Homo sapiens: one gene and its partner. The protein of the gene in region 1 purifies or fractionates together with the protein of each later gene. This does not show direct contact. Each region holds a gene or a part of one and is shown in the gene's direction. Other genes may lie near its edges. The genes, in order: IRAK2 and SESTD1.

Evidence for each region.
Region 2: the proteins of IRAK2 (region 1) and SESTD1 purify together in Homo sapiens (affinity purification with mass spectrometry; 3 studies listed by BioGRID and IntAct, with this or other methods). This does not show direct contact.

What each region holds. Positions count from the first base shown.
Region 1 is NC_000003.12:10,155,516-10,171,651, forward strand, and holds the start of IRAK2 (interleukin-1 receptor-associated kinase-like 2), read left to right. Parts: upstream 1-9,403; 5' UTR 9,404-9,439; coding exon 9,440-9,533; intron 9,534-16,136. UniProt on the Homo sapiens protein: Binds to the IL-1 type I receptor following IL-1 engagement, triggering intracellular signaling cascades leading to transcriptional up-regulation and mRNA stabilization.
Region 2 is NC_000002.12:179,110,697-179,126,651, reverse strand, and holds part of SESTD1 (SEC14 domain and spectrin repeat-containing protein 1), read left to right. Parts: intron 1-1,014; exon of another isoform or gene 1,015-1,116; intron 1,117-2,093; coding exon 2,094-2,288; intron 2,289-2,822; coding exon 2,823-2,937; intron 2,938-4,722; coding exon 4,723-4,882; intron 4,883-9,038; coding exon 9,039-9,120; intron 9,121-9,861; coding exon 9,862-9,984; intron 9,985-11,395; coding exon 11,396-11,587; intron 11,588-13,806; coding exon 13,807-13,928; intron 13,929-15,955. UniProt on the Homo sapiens protein: May act as the primary docking protein directing membrane turnover and assembly of the transient receptor potential channels TRPC4 and TRPC5.

The sequences.
Region 1 (16,136 bases):
CTTGGGGACTGAGGCCTCAACCTGCAGGATCTGATATTATTTCCAGAAAGATGGTGTTGGAAGTGAATTAGAGGATACCTAATTGGTGTTCACTGCAGAATTGATTGCTTGCTCGCTCTCGGGAAGAAATCTACACATTTGGACACGAAAGTGTTCTGGGTTGGTATTGTGTTAGTGTGGAATCTAGAGGAAAAACAGTTTTTCTGAAACAGAAAGGTAAATGAATTTCGCCTTTAGACTTGGGTCCCATCCTCAAGATACCTCATATATATGCACATATTCCAAAATACAAAAAAATCTGAAATTGGAAACACCTCTGGTCCCAAGCATTTCCAATGAGGGACATTCAACTTGTTCCCCTTTCTTTCGGCACACCTAAACTGCCTGCCCCAACAAAACATTTTCTTGTCCCCACCCCTTACCACACATACCCAGTAGTCCATTGGCAGGTCACAGAAAATTGAGGTACACGTATTATGGTCATGAGAAGGATTGGGCAGTAGCACTCAATGTATGAGAGGGAGAAAAACCCACAAAACTTATTTCAAAATTCAAAACATGAAACCGCAGGAAAATATAAGTCTGTTTGACATACAAACTAATGGCAGTAATCTCTCTCCCTGTCTGTCAGAAGGAAAAACACGAAAGATTGTTTCGTTCCAATTGGGAAAAGTTGAATCCTGGGGGCCTGGAGCTGGCCCCACAGATGCTGATAACAGAGCTGAGGTTACTGAAAGGCTTGGGGGAAGTCCTGTTGAACCATTTCATCTTAACATAAGTTGGAGGAGACTTAATTGGGCAAAGGACAGTTTAGCAATTTGCTTGATGGGGAGTGACATGAGTTGATGGATCTTCCCTTGTAGGAGGGTGTTCATTACCTAGGCCCAACCCAAGAATTTTGAGAACTCTTGTTGTAGCTATTCCATGCTCAGAAACCTCTGATAGGAACTGTGGTAAGGGCTCGTATTAGTCTGTTCTCATGCTGTTATGAAGGAATACCCAAGACTGTGTAATTAATAAAGAAAAGAGGTTTAATTGACACAGTTGCTCACAGCTGGGGAGGCCTCAGGAAACTTAACAATCATGGTGGAAGGCACCTCTTCACAGGGCAGCAGGAGAGAGAATGAATGCCAGCAGGGGAAATGGCAGATGCTTATAAAACCATTAGATCTCATGAAAACTCTGTCACCATTGGCCAGACGTGGTGGCTCACGCCTGTAGTCCCAGCACTTTGGGAGGCCGAGGTGGGTGGATCACAAGGTCAGGAGTTCACGACCAGCCTGGCCAAGGTGGTGAAACCCTGTCTCTACTAAAAATACAAAAATTAGCCAGGCGTGGTGGCGGGTGCCTGTAATCCCAGCTACTCGGGAGACTGAGGCAGAGAATTATTTGAACCTGGGAGGCGGAGCTTGCAGTGAGCCAAGGTTGTGCCACTGCACTCCAGCCTGGGCGATAGAGTAAGACTCCGTCTCAAAAAAAAAAAAAAAAAAGAAAACTCTGTCACCATCATGAGAACAGCCTGGGGAAAATTACCTCCCATGATTTGATTAAACCCTCCCATGATATATGGGGATTACAATTCAAGATGAGATCTGGGGGGGACACAGCCAAACCGTATCAGGGCTGTTCCAGCAGGTCTGGATTACCCTGGCGTGGAGCAACTCCAAGCAGTAGGGAGGATTTTGAGAAGGTCTAGTGTGCCTCTGGGGCAGCTGTTTTCCAAATACTCGTTTATACTTGGCAGCCTCCAGGATTTCCACCCCCCTGATAGATGCAGAAAGCAGATCCCTCTGGAACAGACTCCAGTATTGGAAATAAATGTACATGTATGGGAGATTGCCCAAATTAAGTATGGCACTCCTAAATAAGCCATTAAAAAGGATAGGGGGCCAGGCGCTGTGGCTCACACCTGCAATATCAGCGCTTTGGGAGGCTGAGGCTAGAGAATCACTGGAGGAGAGTTTGAGACCAGCCTTGGCAACATAGTGAGACCTCCGTCTCTACCAAAAAAAAAAAAAAAAAAAAGGTAAAAAGAATAGGATAGGATAGAGGTTTACTCATCTTTCTGAGAGAGAAAGAGTAGCCACTTTTTTTTTTTTTTAATTTTTTTCTTGAGAGAGAATCTCATTGTGTTGCTGAGGCTGGAGTGCAGTGGCGTTAGCTCACTGCAACCTCCACCTCCTGGGTTCAAGCAATTCTCCTGCCTCAGCCTCCTGAGTAGCTGGGATTACAGGTGCACGCCACCATGCCTGTCTAATTTTTAATATTTTTCGTAGAGACAGGGTTTCACCATGTTGGCCGGCTGGTCTCGAACTCCTGACTTCAAGTGATCTGCTCGCCTTGGCCTCACAAAGTGCTGGGATTACAGGCATGAGCCACCACACCTGGCTGAAATTTTTATTTTTTAAATTATAATAGAGACAGGGTCTTGTCATGTTGCCCAGGCTGCTCTTGAACACCTGGGCTCAGGCAGTCCTCCCGCCTTGGCCTCCCAAAGTGCTGAGATTATAGATAGGCATGCACCACCACACCTGGCCTTATGTTTGTTTTTCTTAAAATTTTTTTTGTTTGTTTCTGTTTTTTTGTTTGTGCTTTTTTTTGCCTTTTTTCTTTTTTTTTTTCTTTCTTTCTTTCTTTTTTTTTTTTTTTTTGAGACAGCGTCTCACTTTGTCACCCAGGCTGGAGTGCAGTGGCGCTATCTGGGCTCACTGCAAGCCCCACCTCCTGGATTCACGCCATTCTCCTGCTTCAGCCTCCCGAGTAGCTGGGACTACAGGCGCCCGCCACCACGCCCGGCTAATTTTTTTGTATTTTTTAGTAGAGACGGGGTTTCATCGTGTTAGCCAGGATGGTCTCGATCTCCTGACCTCGTGATCCGCCCGCCTCTGCCTCCCAAAGTGCTGGGATTACAGGCGTGAGCCACCGCGCCCGGCCTCCTTTTCTTTTTTTTTGAGACAGAGTGTTGCTCTTGTCGCCCAAGCTGGAGTACAATGGCAGGATCTTGGCTCACTGCAACCTCCGCCTCTGGGTTCAAGTGATTCTCCTACCTCAGCCTCCCGAGTAGCTGGGATTACAGGCATGCGCCACCACGCCCAGCTAATTTTGTATTTTTAGTAGAGATAGGATTTCTCCATGTTGGTCAGGCTGGTCTTGAACTCCTGATCTCAGGTGATTCGCCTGCCTCGGCCTCCCAAAATGCTGGGATTACAGGTGTGAGCCACTACACGCAGCCATTTTTTAACAGAGATGGGGTCTCACTATGTTGTCCAGGCTGGGCTCCTGGGCTCAGGCAGTCCTCTCTCCTTGGCCTTCCAAAGTGTTTGGATTACAGGAATGAGCCATGGCACCCAGCCCATCACAATTTTAGATGTTCATCTTTGCTCCAGAAAATCTAGTTTTAGGAATTTACCTTAAGAAAGAAAAAACAAGTGTGAATAGATGTATGTATATGAAGTTTGCTGCAGTATTATTTAGAATAGCATAATACTGGAAATAAAAGTATACTGATAGGAGTTTGGGCACATATAGTATGGTGTTCCTAAATAAGCCATTAAAAGGGAAATAGTACTATGCTCATATAATGACAGGAAAAGCTATTAATTGAAAAAAAAACAGAAAATTAAATGTTAAAAAAATTTTTTTTTCACCATAGTGTCTGCAAAAAAGAAAATATGTTTAAAAAATTGGCCAGTCACGGTGGTTCACGCCTGTAATCTCAGCACTTCGGAAGTCCGAGGTGGGCAGATCACGAGGTCAAGAGATCAAGACCATCCTGGCCAACGTGGTGAAACCCCGTCTCTACTAAAAATACAAAAAACTAGCCAGGTGTGGTGGCATGCGCCTGTAGTCCCAGCTACCTGGGAGGCTAAGGCAGGAGAATCACTTGAACCCGGTAGGCGGAGGTTGCAGTGAGCCGAGATTTCGCCACTGCACTCCAGCCTGGTGACAGAGTGAGACTCCTTCTCAAAAAAAAAAAAAAATCATTTTGTATAGGACTAAAAACATGTAAAAGGAGTATATACTCCAAACAATAATGGTGATTCCTCAGGGATGAGGTTATGGGAAGGTGTTTGTTTTCTCTTTCTTTCTGTCTTTGACAAATATCACATGCTATCAGAGAAACCAATAAAGATATTTTTGTTAAAAAAAAATATAGCCGGGCGCGGTGGCTCATGCCTGTAATCCCAGCACTTTGGGAGGCCGAGGTGGGTGGATCACCTGAGGTCAGGAGTTTGAGACCAGCCTGACCAACATGGAGAAACCTCGTATCTACTCAAAATACAAAATTAGCTGGGTGTGGTGGCACATGCCTGTAACCCCAGCTACTCAGGAGGCTGAGGCAGGAGAATTGCTTGAACCCAGGAGGCAGGGGTTGCGGTTAGCCAAGATCACACCAGTGCACTCCAGCCTGGGCAACAAGAGCAAAACTCCGTCTCAAAAAGAGAGAAAAAAAAAGAAAAATATATGCAAAGTGCATAGAGAAGCTTTATTATTCTCCTTTCATCAGTCTTCCCTCCTGCTCCAGCTTTTTTTTTTTTTTTTTTTTTTTTTTTGATATGGAGTCTCACTGTGTCCCCCAGTCTGGAGTGCAGTGGTATGATCTTGGCTCAGTGCAGTCTCCACCTCCCGGGTTCAAATGATTCTCCTGCCTCAGCCTCCCAAGTAGCTGGGATTACAGGTGCGTGCCATCACGCCCAGCGAATTTTTTTGTATTTTTAGTAGAAACGGGGTTCCGCCGTGTTGGTTGGGCTGGTCTCGAACTCCTGACCTCAAGTGATCCACCCACCTCGGTCTCCCAAAGTGCTGGGATTGCAGGCATGAGCCACCATGCTTGGCCTCTGCCCCAGCTTTCTGATATGACTGGTTCTCAACTGTGCCAGCACATATTAGAATTATCTGGGAAGCTTTAAAAAACAGTAGTGCCTGAGCCCCACTCCAGAATAATTGAATCTGTCTCCCTGGAGGTAGGGCTAGGCATTTATACTTTTTAAAAGCACCCCAGATGTTTCTACTGTGCAGCCAGGGTTGCAAACCACTGACTATAATTTCAAGGGAATTAAACTTGAACAGCTCAAAATGACGTAAGTGTGTAATTAATTACATTCAGCCTCAATAACTGTTTCTAACTGATCCTGGTGGGTGTTGGTCATGGAAAATAGCCAGAGGAAGAAATTAACTGCAAGATCAGAGGAAATTTCTTGTGGTGAGGCAGTATAACACAGCAGAAAGAGCATTTGCTTTGGGTCAGACTTGAGTTGCATCCTGTTGATGCGGGACAGGCAAGCCCCCAAATTGGGGTTTAGCCTGGGAGGGTTCTTAGCTTCACCCAGAAAGGAATTCCAGGGCCAGCCAGTGGTGTTAAATAGCACCTTTTATTGAAATAGCAGTGTGCAGCCGCAGCAGAGGTACTGCTCCTTGCAGGGTAGGGCTACTCCATAGGCAGTGTGCCCAGAGTAGTGGCTCAGAGGCAGTTCTACAGTCACATTTATACACACTTTTAATTATATGCAAATTAAGGGGCAGTTTATGCAGAACATTCTAGAAAGGGGCGGTGACTTCTTGGAGTCGCCATGGCAATGGTAAACTGACAAGGTACACTGGTGGCAGTGTCTTATGCGAGGTACTTCCCACCACACCTGTTTTAGCTAGTCCTCAATTTGGTCCGATGTCCCAGCCATTCCTTTCGAGTCGAGTGCTGCCCCCTACCTCACTGTCACTTGGCCAACTTGGCCCAGTTACAATTGACTTCAGCCTCAGTTTCTTCATCTGTAAAACAGAAACAATAAACCTTTGCAGGGTTGTATGGATTACAGATAATGTATGCTAAATGCCTGCTAGGTGAGTTGGTAGGTGAAGGGCAACCATTAGTAATAGCAAAGACCTTACTTTGAAGAACTTATTCTAAAGAGTGGTAACTGAGATGTGTCCCTGTGATGACCTGCTCAGGCCCAAAATGACTCAAGCTTCTCTGGAAGACAGAATCCTAGGACACAGATCCCAAGCCCTGAGGCTGGGGTGAGAAGGAATTGCGGGAAGGGCCTGAGGATGCAGCAGAGAGAGCAGTGGGGGCTCCTCTGCCTTCCAGGATTGACCAAGGCTGAATGTGAAACTTCCGTGGTCTTAAAGCCTCACCCCAGGGAAGAGGCCCTGTGGCACTGAGGGAGGAGCTCTACACACACGCTGCTTGCGGAAGAGAAGGAGAAGCAGGTAGGGGACTCTGCAAAAAGAGAAAAGGAGAAAAAGAAGAGGATCTTTATTCTCTTTTACCCCCGTGTGCCTGGGATGGAGATGCTTCTCCACCCAGCCTATGGCAAACAATCATTACAGTTCCCAAGTCCACCTTCAGCCACTGCTGAAAACACAGGACTTCACTTGAAAAGTAGTCTCAGAACACTGAAATATGTCCCACTTTCAACATCAAGGAGGACATAATAGTAATCCTTTACTGGGCTCAGCACTTCACAGTTGATCTTGAGCGTTTTGGAGTCCATTTAGGCTTCATAACAATCCTTCCAAGTGGCTGCAGCAGGAGATCCAGTTTCCAAAAGGGAAAACAGAACTGGCTCAAAGGACTAAGAGCCGGAGAGTGGCTGAACCAGGTCTCCAAACTTGATAGGACTCCAAGGCCAGTGGGTGCCTTTTCAAGACCACTAATGACAGCTACCATTTTTTGGGCACATTCTCTGTGCGAGGAAAGCCCTGTAGTAGGTGTTCTATATAGGCTACATAATTTGATTTATTCCACTCCCCTCACAACTCTAAGCAGTAGGAAGGAGCAGGCCCACTTTACAGATGCTGGAAACAAGGCTTGACGAATGAAATGAGTTGTCCAGAGTCACAAAGCCTGTTGGTGGCAGAACTGCAACTTGGCCCTAGGACTTCTCACTTTGATTTCAGCTTCCTCCTTTTGCAGCGCTACTCCATAGCTGACGGCCACAGCTATACAGTGGTACCTACTCTAGTTACTTATCTGCCCTTCGTGACCTCGCCTAACCTCTTGGAATCTATTTACTTCTGTGTAAAATGGGGATAATAATATCTATAGTATAGGCTTGTAAGAATGACATAAGATCATTTTTGCAAAGTACATTGTAGATACAGATAAATGTATCTGTATCTACAATATACTTTAGCCAGTGGTGATGGAGAGCCTGGGGTCAGAATACTTAGGTTCAAATGATTTTAGCCATATTATTTAACCTCTCTGTGCCTTAGTTTCCTTATTTGTAGAATGGGGCTATAACCATACCTACCTCAGAGGGTCATTGTAAGGAGTAAGTAAAGTAACCCAGGTGAAGGCTACACATAGTAAGTGCTCAATAAATACTAGCTATTTTATATATGTGTGTGTGTATTTTATATATATATATATATATATATATATATATATATATGTATACACACACTATAAATTCTGTTCCTTGTACCCTCTTTGTTTATTTAGAGACAGGGTCTCACTCTCACCCAGGCTGGAGTGCAGTGGTGCAATCTTGGCTCACTGCAATCTCCACCTCCTGGGCTCAAGTGATCCCCCTACCTTAGCCTCCCAAGTACCTGGGACTACAGGCACATGCCACCATGCCTGGCTAATTTTTGTAGAGACAGGGTCTTGCTCTGTTTCCCAGGCTGGTCTCGAATTCCTGGGCTCAAGCGATCTGCCTGCCTCTGCCTCCCAAAGTGCTGGGGTTATAGGTGGGAGCCGCCGCACCCAGCCCCTTATACCCTATTTAATAATCCAGTTTGTCCTGCAGTCCCCTGCACCATACTCTGCTTTTTTCCCAGTAATAGTATCATCTAAGATAATGCAATTGGCCACTTGCACTCCCTTTTACCACCCTCTACTTTTATTCTTTCTTTTCTTTCTTTTTTTTTTTTTTTTTTTCAGAGACAGGGTCTCATTCTGTCACTCAGGCTGCAGTGCAGTCATAGCTCACTGCAGCCTCAAACTCCTGGGTTCAAGAGATCCTACCACCTTAGCCTCCTGAGTAGCTGGGACTATAGGTGTACACTACCATGCTTGGCTCATTTTAAAATTTTTTGTAGAGGCCAGGCGTGGTGGCTCATGCCTGTAATCCTAGCACTTTGGGAGGCCGAGGCAGGCGGATCACGAGGTCAGGAGTTCAAGACCATCCTGGCCAACACAGTGAAACCCTGTCTCTACTAAAAATACAAAAATTAGCTGGGCGTGGTGGCGCGTGCCTGTAATCCCAGCTACTCGGGAGACTGAGGCAGGAGAATTGCTTGAACCGGGACCTGGGAGGCAGAGGCTGCAGTGAGCCAAGATTGCGCCACTGCACTCCAGCCTGGGCTACAGAGCAAGACTCCGTCTCAAAAAAAAAAAGTTTTTTGTAGAGATAAGATCTTCCTATGTTGCCCAGGCTTCTACTTTCATTCTCCAACATAGCTTATCTGCCTATTTTTATTGCTTGTTGTCTGTCTCCCTCCAGGACAAGGATTTTGTCCTTCTCTTCAGAGGTATTCCCAGCACCTACAACAGTGCCTGGCACATAGTAGCTGCACGATACATATTAGCTACTATAGTAAAGTCTACCTGACTACCCTATTTAATAGAATATTCCCCATGCTCAATCTGAATTCCTGATTCCCTTTAACCAACTTTTTTTCCTTTTTTTTTTTTTTTGCAATAGTGCTTATTACCTTTAAGACACTCTGTAACATACTATATTTATTATTTATTGTTAGTCTTTCTCTCCACACCTAGATTGTAAGTCTTATGAAAGCAAGGGCTTTTGTAGGCTTTTTTTTTTTTTTTTTTTTTTTTTTGAGACAGAGCCTCACTCTTCACCCAGGCTGGAGTACAAGGGCACAATCTGGGCTTACTGCAACCTCCGCCTCCAGGGTTCAAGCGATTCTTCTGCCTCAGCCTCCCAGGTAGCTGGGACTACAGGCGTGCGCCACCGTGCCCGGCTAATTTTTGTATTTTTAGTAGTGACGGGGTTTCACCATATTGGCCAGGCTAGTCTCGAACTCCTGACCTCGTGATCCGTCCGCCTCGGCCTCCCAAAGTACTGGGATTACAGGAGTGATCCACCGCGCCCGGCTGTAGGGTTTCTTATTCAGGTATTACCAACACCTAGGGAGTTGCCTGGCATACAGTAGGTAATTAATGGAGTATTTGATGAGCGCATGATGCATGGTGTAGTGCCGATGGAAGTGGGGTCAGAAGGCCTCCTGCCGCTGCGGCAGAATTCCCGTGTGGCCTTCTCCCACCAGGGCCTCAGTTTCCCCTCGCAGTTCCGATTCTCTGGCCGGCGCTGGGGTGGAGCCGGCGGGGCCGTCGTGCCGCCCGTGGCCGCTGGGGACGCTGGTGCCCTCCCGCCCCGCCCACTTCCCCGCCGGTCCGCCCCTGGCTAGAGAAGCCGCAGCCCGCAGTGTCCGACCCAGTCGTCCCGCGCCGGAGCCGGCCCCGTAGCGTGCCATGGCCTGCTACATCTACCAGCTGCCCTCCTGGGTGCTGGACGACCTGTGCCGCAACATGGACGCGCTCAGCGAGTGGGACTGGATGGAGTTCGGTGAGTGCGGCCCGGGGAGGGGAGGGGACCAGGGCGACCGGAGCCCCCAGCGATCCCGCCTGGAGCGGCCGCCAAGCTCCCTCGGGCACCCGGGTTCAGCGGGTCCCGATCCGAGGGCGTGCGAGCTGAGCCTCCTGGACCGGGTCCGCCGCGGACCTCGGCCTGTCACCTGAAGGTGCCGCGTGGTCTCTGAGGACGTCTGTCGACGAGCAGGGGCCGCCGCCACTGCGCTCTGAGTCCAGAGAACGGTGGGTACGGGGGCCCTCCTGTCAGCGCTGCTGGCTCGGTGACGTCCCCAGGTGGCCTCTCATCCAGCCCACAACAGCCTGCAAAGTGCGAGCCTCGACCCTGTAGGGACCCACGGTGCTGTCACTTCTTGGGGGGGTGTGTGTGTGTGTGTGTGTGGTGTGTTTAGTTTTAGTGTATATTAGAAGGATCTATGATTTAACATATATATATATATTGAAACGGAGTTTCGCTGTTGTTGCCCAGGCTGGAGTGCAATGGCACGGTCTCGGCTCACTGCAACCTCCACCTCTGGGATTCAAGCGATTTTCCTGCCTCGGCCTCCCGAGTAGCTGGGATTACAGGCGCCCGCTACCACCCTGGCTAATTTTTTGTATTTTCAGTAGAGACCGGGTTTCACCATGTTGGCCAGACTGGTCTTGAACTATTTTTTTTTTTTTTTTTTTTTTTTTTTAAGACGGAGTCTCACTCTGTCGCCCAGGCTGGAGTGCAGTGGCGCGATCTAGGCTCGTTGCAAGCTCCGCCTCCCGGGTTCACGCCATTCTCCTGCCTCAGCCTTCTGAGTAGCTGGGACTACAGGCGCCCGCCACCACGCCCGGCTAACTTTGTATTCTTAGTAGAGACGGGGTTTCACCGTGTTAGCCAGGATGGTCTGGATCTCCTGACCTTGTGATCCGCCCACCCTGGGCCTCCCAAAGTGCTGGGATTACAGGCATGAGCCACCGCGCCCGGCCTCCGGAACTCTTGATCTCAGGCGATCCACCTGCTTCGGCCTCCCAAAGTGCTGGGATTACAGGCGTGAGCCACTGTGCCCAGCCTATTTATCATATTTGTGATTAAATGTACTTTACCATTATAGTTTTAAAATCAGATATTTACTTTTAGTGTACATTGTTTTGATCACAGTATTTATGACTATCAACCTGTTTTGAGATCAGATGTGTCCTAATAGATTCAGTGTGTATAATGGGGCCTAAGCACAAGCACTTACTTTCACTCTATTGCAAGGTGCACAGTTCTAGATAATTCCGTGGGAAGGCACTCAGACAGCCTCCATATGTTTTGTTTGTTGGTGCCTGACGGATGACTGGCGGAGAGGGCCATGGACTCTGCGGGGAGGCCGCTTGCCTGTTGTCTCTGCTTTCCAGGTGGAGATCTGCATTCCAGGCTCTTGCTGTATGACTTTGGGCCAGTTTGTTAACCTCTCTGAGCCTCAGCTTCTGAATCTGTATGTAAACTGGAGATGATAATTATAGCTTCTTCATAAAGTTGTGAGGAATGAAAATACTGTATAAAAGCACTGACACCTAAGTGTTAAATATTCTTATAAGTCATAAGTTGTAATATTCTCTTTTCATTTTTATTTTTTTGAGACAGTCTCATTCTGTGGCCCAGGCTGGAATGCAGTGGCGAGATCTCGGCTCACTGCAGCTTCCGCCTCTTGGATTCAAGTGATTCTCTTGCCTCAGCCTCCCGAGTAGCTGGGATTACAGGCATGTGCCACCACGCCCACTAATTTTTATGTTTTTAGTAGAGATGGGGTTTCGCCATGTTGGCCAGGCTGGTCTCGAACTCCTGACCTCATGTGATTTGGCCGCTTTGGCCTCCCAAAGTGCTGGGATTACAGGCGTGAGCCACTGCTCCTGGACCTGGCTTCACTACTTTGAATGTTTCCTGGGCAGTGAACAAACTTTGTGTGAGACTCCCTCTCATTTTTTCCACATTGGCCCAGCCCTCAGTTACAAATGCCAGAACAACTTCTGTTTCTAGGAAATTCAATTAGAAGGCATACCTATGACTTAAAAAAAAAATAAAGCTTTACTGAGATATTCACATACCATACAATCCACCTGTTTCAGGAGTACAATTTAGTGGTATTTAGTATATTCACAGGGCTGTGTATCCATCTTCACAATCAATCTTAGAACATTTTAATCACCCGAAGAAGAAACTCTGTACCCGTTAACTTCCAATCCCCTCCTTCCATTTTCCTGAGTTTTAGACATTGCCTATTTTGGACATTTCATATAAATGGAATCATATAATATATAGTGCTCTGTGACTGACTTGTTTCAACTAACATGAGGTTCATCCATGTTGTAGCATGCGTCAATACTTAGTTTCTTTTTTTTTTTTTTGAGACGGAGTCTCGCTTTGTCACCCAGGCTGGAGTGCAGTGGCGCAATCTCGGCTCACTGCAAGCTCCACCTCCTGGGTTCATGCCATTCTCCTGCTTCAGCCTCCCTAGCAGCTTGGACTACAGGTGCCTGCCACCATGCCCGGCTAATTTTTTTGTATTTTTAGTAGAGATGGGGTTTCACTGTGTTAGCCAGGATGGTCTTGATCTCCTGACCGTGTAATCCACCTACCTCGGCTTCCCAAAGTGCTGGGATTACAGGCGTGAGCCACCGCGCCCAGCCAGTTTCTTTTTATTGTAGGATAATGTTCCATGGTATGGATATACTACATTTCATTCATTTATCAGTTGTTGGGCATTGGGTTCTTTTCACTTTTGGGCCATTGTGAATAGTGCTGCTGTGAACACTCACATACAAGATTTTGTGCAGTGGTGCAAATGTAGCTCACCGCAGCCCCAACTTCCTGGGCTCAAGCGATCTTCCTGTCTCCTGAGTAGCTGGACTACAGGTGTGCACTGCTGCACCCAGCTAACTTTTGTATTTTTTGTAGAGACAGGTTTCACCATGTTACTCAGGCTGATCTTGAACTCTGGAGCTCAAGCGATCTGCCCATCTCACCTTCCCAAATTGCTGGGATTACAGGTGTGAGCCACTGCATCTGGCTTTATGTTTAACTATTTGAGGAGCTACCAGATGTTTTCTAAAGTGGCTGAACCACCAGTGTATGAGGATGACCATTTCTCCACATCCTTGTCAACATGTGTTATTTTTTTCTTTTTTTAATTTTTTTTTTTTTGAGACAGAGTCTCGCTCTGTCGCTGAGGCTGGAGTGCAGTGGCATGATCTCGGCTCGCTGCAACCTTAGCCTCCTGGGTTCAAGCGATTCTTGTGCCTCAGCCTCCCAAGTAGCTGGGATTACAGGCATGCACCACCGTGCCTGACTAATTTTTGTATCTTCAGTAGAGACAGGGTTTCACCGTGTTGGCCAGGCTGGTCTCAAACTCCTAACCTCAGGTGATCTGCCCGCCTCGGCCTCCCAAAGTGCTGGGATTACAGGTGTGAGCACCATGTCCGGCCTTATTGTTGCTTTTTTGATGGTAGCCACCTGAGCCAGTGTGAAGTGGCATCTTACTGTGGTTTGATTTGCATTTCCCTAATGACTAATGCTGTGGAGCATCTTTTCCTGTGCTTGTTGGCCATTTGCACATCTTCTTTGGAGAATACCTCTGCGAGGCTCCCCACTGGGATGGATATGATCTGAACACCTTGCCAGGCATGTTGACTCTGACACATCTGCCCAGTGCTGGCCTCTCTGACCTCCTCTTCTTCCACACCCACTGTCACTCCCCTGCTCCAGCCACACTGACCTCCCTGGGCCAGACACAGGGTCTTTGCAGGTGCTGTTCCCTCTGCCTGGGACGTTCTTCCCCCTGTGTTACCTGGGGCTAGCTTTCTAGTCTATTAGTTTCCTCCTGTTGCAGTTATAGATTACTACAATATCAGGGGAACCAGCCCGCAGTATTTCAATGTAGGTTCTTTTCTATTTTCCCTAAGTGTCGGCCGGTCTGAGAAATAAAGAGTACAAAGAGAGAAATTTTACATCTAGGCCTCTGGGGGTGCTGTTACACATTGGTAGGACCGTGATGGTGACCCCGAGCCACAAAACCAGCGAGTTTTTATTAGGGATTTCAAAAGGGGAGGGGTGTACGAATAGGGAGTAGGTCCCAGAGATCACATTCTTCAAAGGGCAATAAAAGATCACAAGGCAAAGGTGAAATTAGAATTACTGGTGAAGGTCCATGTCCCACTGGGCACGCATTGTCTTGATAAACATCTTAACAGGAAACAGGGTTGGAGAGCAGACAACCCGTCTGACTAGAATTCACCAGGCTGGAATTTCCCAATCCTAGTAAGCCTGAGGGCACTGCAGGAGACCAGGGCATATTTCATCCCTTATCTCAACTGCATCAGACAGACACCCCCAGAGTGGCCATTTATAGACCTACCCCGGGAATGCGTTCCTTCCCCAGGGTTATCAATTATTAATATTCCTTGCTGGGAAAAGAATTCAGCGATATTTCTCCTACTCACACGTCCATCTATAGGCTCTCTGTGAGAAGAAAAATATGGCTCTATTCTGCCCGACCCCACAGGCAGTCAGACCTTATGGTTATCTTCCCTTGTTCCCTGAACATCACTGTTATTCTGTTCTTTTTCAGGGTGCCCTGATTTCATATTGTTTAAACACCCACGTTTTACAATCAGATTTCATATTTTTCAAACACACGTTTTACAAACAATTTATACAGTTAATGCAATCATCACAGGGTCCTGAGGTGACATACATCCTCAGCTTATGAAAATGATGGGATTAAGAGATTAAAGACAGGCATAGGAAATTATAAGAGTATAAATGTCCATAAAATCTTCACAATTTATGTTCAGAGATTGCAGTAAAGACAGACGTAAGAAATTATAAAAGTATTAATTTTGGGAACTGATAAATGTCCATGAAATCTTCACAAGTTGTATTCTTCTGCCGTGGCTTCAGCCGGTCCTGTTCGGGGCCCCTGACTTCCCACAACACTACAAAGTTGGTGGCCTGTAACACCTCAAGTTTATTATCTCAGCATTCTGGAGGTCAGAAGTCCTAACTCAGGGTGGCTCTAGGGAGGAGTCGGTCTCCTGGCCTTGACTGGCTTCCTGAGGCCTGCAGCATCCTGTGGCTTATGGCCCCTTCCTCCATCATCAAGGCCATGGGTGTGTATCATCACATCTGTCTCTGTGACTTCTGCTTCTACCATCACCTCATCTCTGAATCTGATGTTCTGGCCTCCCCCTTACAGGGACCCTGGTAATTACCTTGGCCAGACCCAGAGAATCCAGGATAATCTCATCTCAGAATCCTTGATTTAATCTAACCTGCAAAGTCCCTTTTGCTATGTAAGGTACCATATTCACAGGTCTCGGGGCTTAGGATGTGGATGTTTTCCAAGGGTATTATTCTGTCTGTCACAGTCCTTCAGGTAAGCTCCTGTGGCACCTCTTTGAAATCAAGAGGACTTTCCTGCCCCTGTTCCTCTCTAGCCCATCACCGTGTTTCATTTCCCTCATTCCGCTTCACAGCCTTTGATGTCCCCTCGTTCCTGAATTTTTTCCACCTGTCTCTCCCTATGGAATGGAAGCCCCGTGCGGGCAGGGGCCTTACCTGTCTAGTTTTTCACTGCTGTATTCCCAGAGCCTGGGACAGTGCCTGGCTAGAGGGCAGGTGCCAGAATGAATGATGAGCTGCCAGGCCTTGGTGTGGTGAGGATGCGGGCTGCCCACTCTTACCCATTGGAGCTGGCCTGGAGCCTTTGGTCAGCCCACTTCCTACACTGGATCAGAGCCAGCGGTGCCTCCGGCCCACTGCTCCTCGCCCAGTCCCAGTGCTCCAGTTCCCTCTTCAGCTGAATGAACGAGTGACTGTGATTGACCCTTCAGTCCTAAAAATTCTTGGCTTCCTGTGGGTCATTTTAGAAAGAAGACAGTCCCTCAGAGCTGATGGTGATACTGGGAGAGTGTAGTGAGAACGCTAAAGTGATTCAGAAGATCCCGCAGCCACAGACAGCCACGCTCTTTCAGATCCGACACTTGTTGGCAGATAATCTGGCCACGCCTAGTTCTTGTCTCCGTGATGGCAGCTGCCTCTGTTGGGCTTTGCCTGAGCCTGTGTAAAAAGGGTTTCCTACAGCTTCAGCCCCAGGTGTGTGCAGAGGGGCTCGGCGCAGGGGCTCTTCTGTGTGTGGCCGTTCCCCGTCTCGTTCACTCATGCGTGTGCCAGCCTTTGTGCACAGCCCTGCTTTGCCCTGCCCAGCTGTGTGACATCAGGCAGGTGACTATCTCTCTCTGAGCCTTTAGTTTCCTCATCCATGAAGCACCCTCACAGTGTTGCTGAGAGGCTTAGGAGACTCAGCTTATTGTAAAGGGTCAAGTTAGGGCTTTCCTCATCCCCCACCCAGGGAGGGGTGTGGGCATTCGATTCTAAGATGGGTCATTTCAGGAGGCTGTGCCATCCCTGCTGTGGAGGACTTTGAAGACAGGCAAGGTTTTCTACTGCCTCGGGTGAACTCCTGCAGGATTCAGGAACTCAAGAGTGATAGTCCCTGTACTGTTAATCATCAGGGATAAAAACATTTTCAGGCCAGGTGCAGTGGCTCACGCCTCTAATTTCAACACT
Region 2 (15,955 bases), on another chromosome or scaffold:
TAGCCTATAGATGTATTTAGAGCCTATATTAACTTGGTAGTTCTTAGCCTATAGATATATTTAAAGCCTATATTAATTTGGTAATTCTTAGCCTATAGATCTATTTAAAGGCATGGGACTAGGTGAAGTCATCCAAACCCAGTGAGAAGAAAAGAGAGCCTCTGGAAAACTGAGCCTTGGGTCAACCTAAACTTTAAGTGCAAAAAGAGGGAGGAGAGCCAGCAAAGAAGGCTAAAAGGAGCTGTTGTGTCTCAGAAAACAAGAGAAAAGGCCATTTGAAGGAGGAGGAAGTGCTTACTTGTGCCAAATGCAGCTGTTTGTTGAGAGGTTCAATAAAATAAAGACTGAGAATTGACCATTGGATTTGTGGCAAGATGGAATTTTTTGGTGAATTTGACAATTGGTTTCAGAAGGGTGGGAAAACAAAATCCTGATTGGAATGGATTAAAAAAAGAATGAAAAATGAGAAAAGAGTAAATACAGAGAACTCCTTTAAGAAAAAAATTTTTTTTAACTGAGGTTTAATTTCAGCGTAGTAAAATGCACAAATCTTAAATGTGTATTTTATTGTTTAATAAATTACAGCTTATTTATATGCTGGTGGAAATAATCCAGTTGAGACAGAAGAACTGATGGGAGACAGAGAAGATAACTGTGAGAGCAAAGCTTTGTGTAGGCAACAGAGATAGGCTGTAATGCACAAGTGGAGTGGTTGGCCTTAGAAGAAGAGACAGGCGGCTGATTATTACAGCTCTGAGGGCAGAGCATAGGGCTGTAGAAGAACGGAGGGTTGGGGATTTGTTGGTGGGAAGATGAAAGAGTTTTCCGATTACTTCCCAGTGAATTAAGATCTTTGGCTGAGAATGAAGAAGTGAAAAGGGAATTGGAGACTGATAGTGAAAAAAACATAAATGATCATGAGAATGAGAAAGTGAATTTACTAGAGAAACATAAAAGGATTGCCAAAGACTCATTTGAGATTATTTAGTCATAACTTTAAAAAGAGATCTGTCAATCCTTTTGTAGTTTATAAGCATGATGATGGGTGCTCACACTCATCTGAGATGTGTCTCCCTCTAAGCCTTGTAACAACATCAGCACGTTACCCTTCTGATGTGAGGGAAAAGAGAGAGAGCGCTATCCACCTAGTTGTTTTTAGTCTACCCATGTTCGGCTACTCTGGTACAGGCACACATTAGGCAGAGAAAACAGATCTCAGGTTTCAACAGGTCATTCTGATGGAAGGAAAGAAAGCCAGGCAGGGGCATGGGTTATATGCTGGGAGGTGGTTATAGCCTTTGATCAAGGATGGAAGTGAGGACAGAGGTTCTCATGTGCTGGATGGTAGAGAGGTCAGTAGATTGGTGGATTCCATGGGATTGTAGGTGTGAGCCTACAAACAGAGGTGAATGGGAGAGTCAATAGGTGGTCAGAAAATGGGTTTCATGAAACAGATTTTTGGAGCTACATAGTAGTATATGATGACACGTTTTTATGGCCAGTGGAAGAGGTAGCTGAGTTGAGGTGAGGACAAGTTAGTTGGAGGTGAGGGAGGGAGTCAAGGAACTGGAGGTTCAGGATGGTGGTGGGTGCCTATGTAGTGGAAGTCACTAAGAAGGCTGATGCTGAGAGGAAGGCAGTGTGACCTTTGCTAAACCCTTCTGTGGATGAGGTGATACCACACAGAAAGCTGAAAAGATGTAATCTAACAGCATGCACTTCAAAGGGGATACGGTTTTTTGAAAGAAGAGGGAAAATAAATGGTCTGCAAGTAGTGAGGAACGAGGCACCCAAACCCACCTTCAGGCTTGCAGTATGTCAGACATGGAAACAGTAATCAGTTGAGAAGGCTGCAGGGGTGACTGAGGGCGGACAGGTTTCACTTAGAGCAAGGAAGAGAAGAGAACATTTAGAGGTCAGGGATTGAGTTCCAGGGATCACAGGATTAGGAACTTTCCACCCTCAATTTTAATAATTTTGCCTTAGAAAAAAAAAATCATGTATTACTTAGTTTATCTGGAGAAATTATAAAATGTAATCTCTTCCAGGAACTAATTTGAGCCTTAGTTTACTTTGTAACATCTTGATTACAGGAATGGTTTGCAGTGTATGTGGAACTTAATCAGCAAATTGCAGCACTCTTGAATGCTGGCGATGAGGAAGATCTTGTGGAACTAAAGTCACTGCAGCAACAACTTAGTGATGTTTGTTATCGACAGGCCAGTCAGCTGGAATTTAGGCAAAATCTCTTACAAGCAGCTCTTGAATTTCATGGTGTTGCCCAAGATGTAAGTGTCTATTCTGATTCTTTTCTTTTCTTCAAATTATCTGAACACTTACCTACACGTAATTTTTTTCAGGTTTGCATGCCTCCTAAATTATTTTTCTGAACCAATAAAATGAATTACTGGTGGGGGTAATGAGATAAAATTCTTTGATTTTTTTTAAAAACAAGTATTTTTTAAGTCATTCTGCATGCAATTCAACCTTTTATTGTCTAACTAGAGTGTTCCAATCTAGTAGAATATTTTATTTTGACTCCTTCTCAATGTTTATGCTTTATAACTTAGATGGAAATGGAAGTCTCAATACTTTTTTGCATTCTGCTGACCTGAATGTACTTCTTTGTCTTCCTGGTGCATGCATCTGTGTGTTCTGTCTTCCAGATAATGCATATTCTAATGATTCGTCCTTGTCTTGTAACAGTGTAGTCTTTTCAAGTGTAATTGTGATAACCTCATTAGATATAAACCTCATTAATCATTAAACACTTTAGATGCTGATTACATCAGGGTTATCTCTTTGGTGTCCCTCTGCTTTAGTTGTCTCAGCAGTTGGATGGCTTATTAGGGATGTTGTGCGTAGATGTAGCACCAGCTGATGGAGCATCGATTCAGCAAACTTTAAAACTGCTTGAAGAGAAGCTGAAAAGTGTTGGTAAGCAGATTTTAAAAATGCTGAAACATAAGGTTTTTTTTTTTTTAAATATCATTACCATGGTTAGACAATTAAGTCAACTTACACTGAACTAATTAGTATTATTTTCAGGAAACAGAAAAATAGTATAAAAAGATTTTATTCCCTTGAGGGGTTATAATTTATGCTGAAAATTTTATTTTTCATCGTTAGTTAGTCACTCCTCCCTTCACTGGGCCTTTACCCTTGCCTGTTTACCCAGCTATATCTACAGGTGCTGTGTCTTGCATATACTATGAACAATTATTTGTAGTGCATGCATGAACTGTAATTAGCTGTGAAATGTTCTGTGGTAAATCCTGTATGCCCAAAATTGTGTTTTATGCAATGATTTTTGTTGTTGCTTTATCCTAACCTTGTGAAAAAATAGTTGGTTTGGTTTTTTGGTTCTTGTCTCACCAAACTGGGAATATTGTCAGATTACCCATTCTCCAAGGAGTGGGGTACATTTACATTAAGGGGTCCAGTTACATTAAGCTGATGTAGGCTTGATGTCATTTGACATCAAGGCCTTTAGAATTTTTCTACAGCAGGAAGCACAGTGAACTTTCCTAAAAGGTCAGGATGTGACAATGGGAAGGTGGGGAGTCGTATCAAGGGGGGACAAAAGGGGAAATGGCAATGGAAGAGAGGAAACAGGAACTTAAGGCAGAGAACTAGTAAAAAGTGGTTGCACATGACTAAACCAAATTATTGAAAACTGCCTTAGGGAATTGGTTTGAAAAATCACACTTGTACTGACATTTTACTTGCTTACAGCCTTTGTTATTTTATTTTTTTGAGATGGAGTCTTGCTGTGTTGCCCAGGCTGGAGTGCAGTGGTGCCATCTTGGCTCACTGCAACCTCTGCCTCCCCGATTCAAGTGATTCTCCTGCCTCAGCTTCCTAAGTAGCTGGGATTACAGGCACCTGCCACCACGCCCGGCTAATTTTTGTATTGGTAGTTATAGTAGACATGGGGTTTTGCCATGTTGGCCAGGCTGGTCTCGAGCTCCTGACCTCTGGTGATCTGCCCACCTCAGCCTCCCAAAGTGCTGGGATTACAGGCATGAGCCAGCGCACCTGGCCAGCCTCTGTTATTTTAACAGATGGTATGCATAATACATATTTAGTGTTTAATATGACAAATGAATTTTCTTTTAAAATATTAGTTTTCTTGAGCCACAGTCTTTGTTTAAAAAAAAAAAGTTCCTTTACACATGTAATTTGGAGAATTGTAAATATACCCTAATTGTTGCTTCCTATGGTATAGAAGCTAGACTGTATCTTTAGTCACAATGTTCAACATCCTTTGACATTGATGATACATTGCTGGAGTGTCTTAAAATTTTGCAAGGCTTATGCGCTTTTTTAAACAACATGTTTGCCTTGTTCTCCTATAAGTTGGACAGCATAAAAGCAGGAAGAAAAAACAGAAAATTGTTTTCTATTAGAAATAGGAATTTTCATATTTTTCTTCTGCTTTCATTTTTTAAAAGTAATTATTGTCTATGGAAACCCATGTTTTCAAAATTCCCTTTAGGGAGAATTTGGCATGAGAGAGAGCTCCAATTCGAGTTACATTTAAAGGGTTTTATTGCTTGAAATGTTCATAGGATGGAGTCTTGGGATTCCATCCCAAGGTGGTTTACTGTACAAAGCTCCTATACTTGGGATCCAGGTACAATATCTGATGAGACGATTTGTTTGAGGGAGGGAAAGCGCCTTAGTTGTGTAAGAGATTAAATCTAGTAACTTTTGTTTTAGATGTGGGATTGCAAGGTTTGCGTGAAAAAGGTCAAGGTCTCCTGGATCAGATCTCCAATCAGGCATCCTGGGCCTATGGAAAGGATGTAACCATTGAAAATAAAGAAAATGTGGACCACATACAAGGAGTGATGGAAGATATGCAGCTTAGAAAACAAAGGCAAAGTTTGACCGTTAATTACTTTTTACTAAAATAATAACAATATTAGTTAAAATGAAGTTATATAACATTTTATATACAGACAAAACGTTCTTAACTGTTATATAGAAGACATGTAGTAGGTTTTTGGTGAATGTGATAATTACTGTATATAATTTTACTAACATAGTAATAATTTATTCAATTATTAGGTACCATTTTCCTTTTTATTGGGTTGTAAAAATTTCAATTATACTCAACTATTTCAAATTCCATATCCCCAGTGTAGTCTATGACTCTTCTGCTTTAAAAAAAACTTACTGAAGAATAATTTTGCTTTTTAAATTTCATTTAGTTTAGAGTTGCCATTAAACTTGTCATCTACATTGATCTGTTTCTTCATCTAAACTTACAGAATGTCACACATTCATTGTTCTCATATTTGCTGTAGGAGGATTAAACAGTGGACTAGTGATGTTTAGTTTCATTTTCTATAAAACTAGGAATTCAAAAGATTCTTTGAAAACTCAGTTTGCAATAGCAACTACAAAGTATTGCAAAGTAAAGGATTAAAATTATGCAATATACACAATCTAGCATGGTTATATGAAATTTTGCACACTTAAAAATTTTATGATCATCAACAAAACTTCACAGAAAGCTTCCTTCTGCATCACAGAGAAAACAGTCATGAGGCAGAAATTTCTTCCCTCATATCTGCAAACTTACTTTTATTCTGTCACCACAGAGGATGATAGAGCTCTCCGTTTATATCAAAAAATATCAAAGCTGAGCTTCCATTTAGGCTCTGATTCTGATCACCCTCCTGACTCCTAACTCCATCAAATCCCATTCTCTACTCTGGTTCCTGCCCTCACTTAAATGCTTAAATTTCTCCTGTTTTAAAAATAATAATCACACATATGGGTACGTCTTCCTCTTCAACTCTTTGTCTTTTAGCATTAGAACTCTTCCTCACAGCTAAGTCATTTGGATAGGTTTACGGTACATTCATACTACTTCCCCCACTACCTCCAATTTATTTTCAACTCTTTTCAGTCTGACTTCTACCCTAACTATTTCATTCAGTGTTGCTCTTACCAGCATTACCAACGTAATAAATGCTGTATCTTACTTAAAGTTCAGAGAATACTTTTAGTCTTGACTTGCTTAACTGTGATTAGCGTTAGGCACAACTGACTTTTCGATTTCATCTTTCTTGAAAACACATTTATGATCCTTCTCTGTTTCTTCTTGGTTTTTGTCACTGATTTCTTGGCCACTAGCTAAAGTTACTGCTTCCAGGGTTTGTTCTGAGGCCAGATTCCCTTCTTTATATATTCTCCCTGGACATTCTCACTACTTGAATTACTTTCTTTAATAGATCATGGTTTAGTAGTTACAGCTCTCCCGTGCTGTAGACCCATAATTCCAATTGCCTACTTAGTGTCGCCTGCGGGATGCCCCATGTACTGCTGAAATCTAGTGTATTAGTCCATTCTTGCATTGCTATAAAAAACTACCTGAGACTGGGTAATTTTTCTTTTCTTTTCTTTTTTTTTTGAAACAGAGTCTCGCTCTGTCACTAGGCTGGAGTGCAGTGGTATGATCAAGGCTCACTGCAACATCCACCTCCTGGGTTCAAGCGATTCTTCTGCCTCAGCCTTCCGAGTAGCTGGGACTATAGGCGGGTGCCACTGCACCCGGCTAATTTTTGTATTTTTAGTAGAGACGGTGTTTCACCATGTCAGCCAGGCTGGTTTCAAACTCCTGACCTCGTGATCCGCCCACTTTGGCTTCCCAAGGTGCTGGGATCACAGGCGTGAGCCACCGCACCCGGCCGAGACTGGGTAATTTTTAAAGAAAAGAGGCTTAATGGGCTCACAGTCCCACAGGCTGTACAGGAAGTATGGCTGGGGAAACCTCAGGAAACTTCCACTCATGATGGAAGGTGAAGGGGAAACAGACACATCTTACTTGGATGGAGAAAGAGGAAAAGAGTGAAGGGGGAGGTGCGGCACACTTTTAAACAACCAGATCTCATGAGAACTCACTTACTGACATGAAAACAGCAAGGGGGATATGTGCCCCCATGATCCAGTCATCTCCCACCAGGCCCCTTGTATTTATTAGTCCATTCTCACGCTGCTATACCTAAGACAGGATAATTTATAAAGGAAAGAAGTTTAATTGACTCACAGCTTTGCAGGGCTGGAGAGGCCTCAGGAAACAGAATCGTGGTGGAAGGGGAGGCATCTAATCACATCCCACCAGGCTCCTCCTCCAATATTGGGATTACACTTTGATGTTAGATTTAAGTGGGGACACAAATCCAAAACCCAGATCCAAACCAGATCACCTAGTATGTCCAGACTGGAATCATTTTCCTCTAAAACTTGCTCTCCTTTTTTAATTTCCTGCCTAGGTTAAAGTTACCATCAGCTACCAAACTTGAGATTTATCCTAAAATCCTTCATCTTTCTCATCCCTTATAGCTTAATCAAATGTCCAGGTTCTGCTGTCTCTGAATCTCAAACATTTATGGTCAAGATCTTAAACTCTTATCTGCCTCTGGCCTGGCTACTCTCCAGCTTTTTGTATATAAGTGTAATTTTCATAAAGTACAACAATTGTGTAAAACTTCCTTCAGTGACTTCCTGTTTGCTCAGATGGAGTTTGTCTTCTTGGAATAATGTAGGAGACCCTTCATAATCCAATTCTTGCATAATTTTATCTTCTATAACATTCCCATAAAATCACACAGTTGTTTTTATCTCCCTGAAAGCATCATGCTGTTTCATGCATCCATGACTAAGAATACTTGTTTCCTTGTTTTCTGCTCAGTGAATTCCTACTTACTCTTCAAGACTCAGGGATACTTACTTTACTTTAGGAAGCCTTTTTGGACTTCTAAGGCAAGTTAGTCACTTGCTCCTCCCTACTCTCATAAAACATTTTAAATAGCTTTATAATAGTACTTATAACATCTCTGCAAATGGGAGCATCTTGATAGTAGAGACCATATCTTATATTTTCCCCAGCACACATTATCTAATACCTGAATACAGTATATGTATGATACCATCTTCATCAAAGTGGCCTACATTGTTTTTTAGTTTCATATTTAAAAAATAATTATCACTTCCCTTCAGTCCATTGTAGAATTACTTTAACCAAGTTGAATTTTAATGTCATGTTATAGCTTTTATTCAGAGCATCTTTATTTTTTTTTAAAAAAAAGCCTTGTGATACCTACTTCTATATTGTTATTAAGCTTTCTTTAAGGACATCAAGTATAGTAGAGCACAGTGTCTGGTAACATATTATCGGTATTTGAGACTGCAGTGGGAGTCCCCCATCCCACCTGCAGTACGCAGAATTTCATGGAAATGAAGGAAATGGACCAGAGTTAAGTTAGGTTAAGTTGCCTTAAAAATTTAAATGGTTATATTATCCAAAAAGACCACAATGAGATTAAAAAAATAATTTGAATTGTGTTTCTCTACACCCAGAGGTCAGTAGAGTTTTTTTGTTTTTTTAAGCCCTCCATCTAGTTTTTAAGAATGTAGATGGAGGGTTTTAAAAAAAATCAGAATTAAATATTATTTTAGGTACTATAATATAATGAAAAGCGTTAATGTTTAAATGTTTCTTTAGCTGGGCATAGTGATGCACACCTGTAGTCTTAGCTACTTGGGAGGCTGGGATGTGAAGATCATTTAAGCCCAGGAGTTTGAGGTTATAGTGAGCTATGATGGTACCACTGCACTCCAGCCTAGGTGCTTGAGTGAGACCTTGTCTCAAAAAAATATCATCCTGTATTTGAGAAACATTACACTTTTATCCTTGAAACTTGTTTGATGCTAAACAGCAATGGAGATTTTTTTTGGGTTTTAGTGTACTATTGTCCTTACATTTTGCTTTAATATTTTGCAGAATCCATGCTATCTTTAAGAGGGTTTGTCATTGAGTATCATTTGGGTATTTTGATGTTTTGATGTAACATTGATATAAATATCCCTAAAATTCTTACAAATCAATACAAAATACTTGCATTCTCCATTGTTTAGGACTAAGTATTTTAGTGTACTATAAAATACATGTACCAAATGATGATGTTACAATAGTAATCAATAAAACAGAAATGATGAGTTAAATTTATGTTTGGGTTCATTAGATGTGAAGACATGGTAGATGTGCGAAGGTTAAAGATGCTTCAGATGGTGCAGTTGTTTAAATGTGAAGAAGATGCTGCCCAGGTAAGGAGCAGTCAGCTACATTATGTAGTTAACTTTTCTTAGAAGATTGATTTTATCTAACTACAAACAAAAGTGTACTTTTCATGGTCCTAAAAAAGTAAATTCTTGAAGTCAGGTTCTAGTTTATCTATCTTGTTGAAGAATACACTTTGGTATTCCCAGCTAGTTGATTGATCTCATTTAACTTAATTTTCTCAATGAAATCCTCTATAATCCTCTATTGAGCTAGAGATTGGGATCGTTTATTATTTATTATTGTTGATTAGGTTGTCAGTTACATCCAGGATAAAATCTGGTGGAGCACACTGCATTTTGCTCTCTTGCATCTGCAAGAGAAATTTCAATACCAGATAAACAATTTGATATATTTTGTCGTTATCATCAGAGAACATCATTTCAGTTAGATATAGATAAAATTTTTGATTTTATGTAGTAACACAAATCTGTAATGCAATCCTGATGGATCTACATACAGAAATACATGATCTTTTATTATGTGATATTAATTTTAAAAGAATGCTTTTCTTCAGTATGTCTTGCCTTCAGATTTAAAGAATTTTGAGGAGTAGGACAGGTCATTAATTCATGTAGCTTATCATTGAATGAAATAAGCTTTTAAGACTTTAGGTTATAATTAACGGATTTATTAATCACATGATAGTAATCTCTGTATAAATGACATTTTGATACAATAAGTAAAGAGTTCTGAATCCAGCTTCATTGTTATGTCTTTTTGTTTAGGCAGTAGAATGGCTAAGTGAACTTCTGGATGCTCTGCTTAAGACTCACATCAGATTGGGCGATGATGCTCAAGAAACGAAAGTTTTGCTGGAAAAGCATAGAAAATTTGTTGATGTTGCACAGGTGCAAAACTGGTTATCTTCCTTTTCCACAAGCTCAGTGTTTGAATAGCTTTCTGCATGATTATAATGTAACTTTACCTTCCAAGTACAAGAAGGTTAGTTTTGTTATTCCAGAAGTGTCACAGAATTAAGAAAATGTCAGCTGGTGCATCAAAACTAGCCTGCATAAACTTGAGAGGGTTTACGTTTCCCTGAATACATGTTCTGCATGGTCCCTCTGATTTATGCTATGTATTACGGCATTTTTAAGGCAATCCAACTGTTCATCCACAGAAGTTAATATGAAATGGATGTTAATATCAGTAAATAAGAAACCTCACTTTCTGCATCACACTAGTGTTAGCATAATAATACAGAACTTTTTTGTGGTGAAAAGTGTCTTTTTTTTTTTTTTTAAGACACAGTCTTCCTCTGTTGCCCAGGCTGGACTGCAATGATGCAATCTCAGCTCACTGCAACCTCTGCCTCCCAGGTTCAGGCGATTCTCATGCCTCAGCCACCTGCGTAGCTGGGATTACAGGCACCGGCCACCACGCCTGGCTAGTTTTTGTCTTTTTAGTAGAGATGGGGTTTCACCATGTTGGCCAGGCTGGTCTTAAACTCCTGACCTCAAGCGATCCACCCGCCTCGGCCTCCCAAAGTGCTGGGATTACAGGAGTGAGCCACCGCGCCAAGCCAAAAAGTATCTTATTTTCCCTAATAATGAGTTCACGTTTTAACAGATGTAGTTTCCTATATGGAATATAAAGTGCCTAATTTCACCTACTTTTGAAAGTAGTTTTGATTAATTCATAAGCAGACATTCTTTCTGGCCAGTGAAATTTAAGCAGACTGCGATGGGGGAAACAGAATAAAGTGGGGAAGCCTAACAGAAGGAGACTTTTTTCTAATTAAAAATTTTAAAACAATTTTTGTTTTTTTGAGACAAGGCCTTGCTCTGTCAATTAGGATATGATGTTTCAGCACAATCATAGCGCACTGCATCCTCAAACTCCTGGGCTGAAGTGATCCTCCTGCCTCAGCCTCCAAGGTAGCTAGGACTACAGGCAAGTGTGGCCAAACTCAACTAATTTTTTTCATTTTTTTAGAGATAGGATCTTGCTATGTTGGCCAGGCTGGTCTTGAACTCCTAACTTCAAGCAATCCACCCACCTCAGCCTCCCAAAGTGCTGGGATTACAGGCATGAATCACTGTGCCTGGCCATGAAACTTATTATAAACTAACAAAAACATAGCTTCCCCTTTATTACTTATACACACAGATGATTTGTAGTAATAAGTGCCACTAGATTTATTCAGTATTGATTTCTAGTAGTGTCACTTAACTGTAACGACAATCTTCCTGCACACTTTCCCCATCCTTCTCTTAAGAATTCTTTTATTACAATTTTATGTTTCCTTTTCTTTTTTAGAGCACTTATGACTATGGCAGGCAGTTGCTACAGGCCACAGTTGTGTTATGCCAATCTTTGCGCTGCACTTCTCGGTCATCTGGGGATACACTTCCTCGACTGAACAGAGTATGGAAACAATTTACAATAGCATCTGAAGAGAGAGTACATAGATTGGAAATGGCTATTGCATTTCACTCAAATGCTGAAAAGGTTTGCTTGTGTTTTTGAAATGTTATTCTCAGTGGTATTGATTATATGTGTTTAAAATATGTTAATTTTAGTAATGTAACTATATGACTAATCTATTTTTCAATATTTATATTAGTTCCGTTGTTACGGTTTGTTTAGATATAATACATTGCCTTAGAGAGTTCAAATTAAATTTCCTTAATCCTTACCAGTGCTGGAGAGCCATGATTGGAGAAATCCAGAACCACCTGGTAGTCTTCTTCTCTTTACACTTCTCTCCTCACCAAGCCTGGTGTCCAGAATATGCCCTCTGTTCTTTAGAGTATCATGAGTTCAATCTCTTTCGTTATGCCTGGAAGGGAAACTTTTTGCTTTGGCAACTGCTATTAATTGTCACACATTTTTTAAAAGGCACCTTGTGATTTTATAAAGTCGGGACATTAAAAAAATAAGAATAAGGACAAAAGTAAAATGCTTTTTTATATGTGTTCTTTAAAGATTCATTCTAGAATTTATTATTCAATGAATTAAGGTCATTAATTTCAGAAACAAAAAATAAAATATGCAGGGTTATTTGGACACATTTTCAATAGAACTTTTTTCTTACTCTTCATAGTAAGAATTTATTCTACCCAAGCCTTACATATCCATTCTGAAAAGGAACTTTATTATGTAGTTAATTTTGTTTTGATCTCTTACAATAAAAGTTTATATGTAGGGAATGTTCGATACACTTTGAGATATTAGCAAACCTAACTTGATCCATGGAACAGATGTTGCAAGGAACCTCAGGAATTAAAGTTTCTATCTGAGTTATGAAGTACATCTGTTGGGAAGGGTCCATAGTTAACTCATTCTCAGCTGGTCATTGAACTCCGTAGATCAGTGTTTGATTAACATGGGCCTAATGATGATAAGTGGAAGTATACAAAATAGTGTAACTTGTTTATCTACTGATTGTTTCAATGAGAATTTTTTATTATTATGAAGTATACTATTAACATAGAAAACATACCACAAGTATTCTGTGCAGTGAGATTTCATAAAGTGAACACACCTGTGTACTCAGTGTACTGTTCAAAAAAAACAGAACATTACCAGCACCCAGAAGCTCCCCCCACCCTGTGTAATCACAGTACTGCTCCCCCAATCACCTCACTGTCAAAGGGTGACAATTGGCCCAATGTCTAGCACCACTGATAACTTTTTTTTTTTTTTTTGAGACAGAGTCTCACTCTGTTGCCCAGGCTGGAGTGCAGTGGCATGATCTCAGCTCACTGCAGGCTCCACCTCCTGGAGCTTGTTGTACAAACCTAAGTAAAGCCCTTTGTTATCAGATATTACTTTCCTCTTGACTGTATTCTATTTTATACCATAAGCATAAATATAAATAACCACAACTATAAGCAAATTGTATAGTATAATGATTAGAAAAATATCTAAATTAAATCTTGAGTTTTAAAATACAAAAATGTCCGTTCATGAGTAATGCTGAAGTAAACATGATTAGATAAAGTGTAATGCAAAAAAAAGTTGTAAAAATGAATACTTTTTATTCTCTCTCTCAAATTTTGCAGTTCTTGTGGTTTAATTTAAATGGTAATGGTTAGGGTGGAGTGAAGAACAGTATCTCATCAAGGACTATAGAGATTACCATATTTGAATTATAACCTAATCATTTTATGGCAGTTAACTCAAGCCAGCAGATCAGTTGTTAAATATTATCATCTAGCTGAGTTGTCACATCAGTTATTTATTTGTACTCTTTGTTGTTTTTTATTTATATAATTTTTCATTTGTAATGTCTATATGCTCTTTGAGAACACAGTCTATACCTCCTTCACCTTCCAGACTGCTACATAAACATAAACTGTTCAATAAATGGTTACTTAATATAAATGAAAGAATACTTCTTAAGGACAGATTGAACTTATTTTCCAAATAGTAGTCTAGTTATTTTCTTTCTTGGAAATCACCATATTGTTAGTAGGAATTATGTATTTCATTTTGTTTGTTTGAATTTCTTGAAGAATTTTGCCAATAATAGATCAATCTTATATAGTGGTATACCTGAAGATGCTAAGAACAAGAAAATGCCTTTAATCTACCAAATTTGTATGAGCTTGATTCCATTTCTGTGTCTTTCTTTTCTCTCTTTTTTTTTGTGGGGTGGGGTGATCCTCTGAAACTGCAGACCTGTCTGTGTCTCTTGATTGATGTTGCTCTTTTATTTGTTGCAGATTTTGCAGGACTGTCCAGAAGAGCCTGAAGCTATTAATGATGAGGAGCAATTTGATGAAATTGAAGCAGTTGGGAAATCACTTTTGGATAGATTAACTGTTCCAGTAGTTTATCCTGATGGGTATGGGGCATGTTCTTATAATTTTATTTTTTATTGGTGTGGTCTTAAAGTGAAATCATTAAAAGAGGAAATCTATTCTTTAAAAAGCCAAGTAAATTAGGTTTGGTCCACATCTTTAACTCCTACGATGAATTAGTTTAAAATGAAAAGAAATCCACACCTCTTAGCCACAGTAATGGTACTTGCCAACAACAGATGCGTTACTTCTTGACAGCTTGTTGTAGAATGATCATTGACTAGATTAAGACACTGGGTTCTAGCCTTGGCTATGATGGTGGGGAATAGTGTGACTTGGGGCTTCATTCAGGAAAAGGAAGAGGGGACAAGGGATTGATGTTTAGTGAGTTCACAATATATGCCAAGTACCAAGTGAAACATTTCACCTTCATTACTTTTGACCAAAGAGGACCAAACCAGTATGATTATTCCTGATTTACAAATGAAGAAACTGAGGCCCACAGAGATTAAGTAAGGCTCTCAGGATTTCACAGCTTCTAAGAGTTAGCATAAACTTACAATCTCAGGTATGTCTGTGTGGCTCCAAACCCATTCCCTTTGTACTGTGTTATATGGCGTTCTAATTTCTTTATGTGTGAAGGAATGGGGTCCTGATTATCTTACACCTTTCCATTTCAAATAGTGATAAAAATATGAAATAATCTGATGCAAAATAAATGGATCAGGAAAAGAATCAGGAAGAGCTTCAGCCGGGCGTGGTGGCTCACGCCTGTAATCCCAGCAGTTTGGGAGGCCAAAGCGGGCGGATCACAAGGTCAGGAGATGGAGACCATCCTGGCTAACACGGTGAAAACCCATCTCTACTAAAAAGACAAAAAATTAGCTGGGCGTGGTGGCGGGTGCCTGTAGTCCCAGCTACTCGGGAGGCTGAGGCAGGAAAATGGCATGAACCTGGGAGGCGGAGCTTGCAGTGAGCCGAGATCACGCCACTGCGCTCCAGCCTGGGTGACAGAGCAAGACTCCGTCTCAAAAAAAAAAAAAAAAAAGAATCAGGAGGAGCTTCATCCCTGGTGATTTAGACCTGATTCTTACTGAAAATAATTTAGAGATAATCCAGAGGATATTTAATTCAAATGATAGAGTAACCAAACCAGTAAATAAAAATACAAGTACCTTTAACGTTGTGGTATAGTGTGATGAGTCTGTGCACTCTGGAGCCAGAGGTCTCAGCTCTACCACTTACTCACTGTAACACCTTGGGCAAGCCACTTAACCTTTGTGCCTCAATTCCCTCATCTAAAAACTGCCATGTAACACTCATACCTTCCTCAGGTTATGGGGGTGTGGGAATTACCTGAGCTAAATAAGTATAAAGTACTTAAAACAGATCTGACACATAATAAGCACTGCTACTACTGTGCCATGATCTTCCAGTGATTATTTGGGATTGATATTGAAAAGATGGCATTTTATTCCCTTGAAATAATATTATTCATAGTCTATACTTACGTTATCTCAAGCCCCACCTAAACTTGAACAATCAGAGGTAGCCTAAAGTCACCTAAAGTTGTATTACACATCTGCAATAAAAGACAACAAAATTCAGCTAGTAGCAGAATTACAGGCGTGCTTCTGGTTGTTCCATTCCAGGATCCCTTACCCTCCCTGATTCCTACATTTCACAGCCAGTTGTCACACAGTCAGTCTCCTGTTCTACCCATGTCAGCCTAGGAACACCTCTCCCTGGTATGCTTGCTTCAGCTTCTCGTCTGTGTTTCACAGATAGTCCATGTGTCATTTCCTCATCCATCCTTTTAAGATAAAAGAATGTTAGTACTATATATTCAAAGTTCACACCCACCTTTAATATTTTGGAATTGCTGTTTTATTCCACTTTATATTCATATTAAAACTTATGTATATCTCTTTTAGGTATTTTGCTGAATTAAATATTTCCCAAAGTTGTGTGTAGTGTTTTCCATAATTATTAATATAATGGTAATCTGTTTATGCCATGTATAGTTTGTTTGACAGGTTAGACAGATTTCTCTTTTATACCTTCTCCTGGT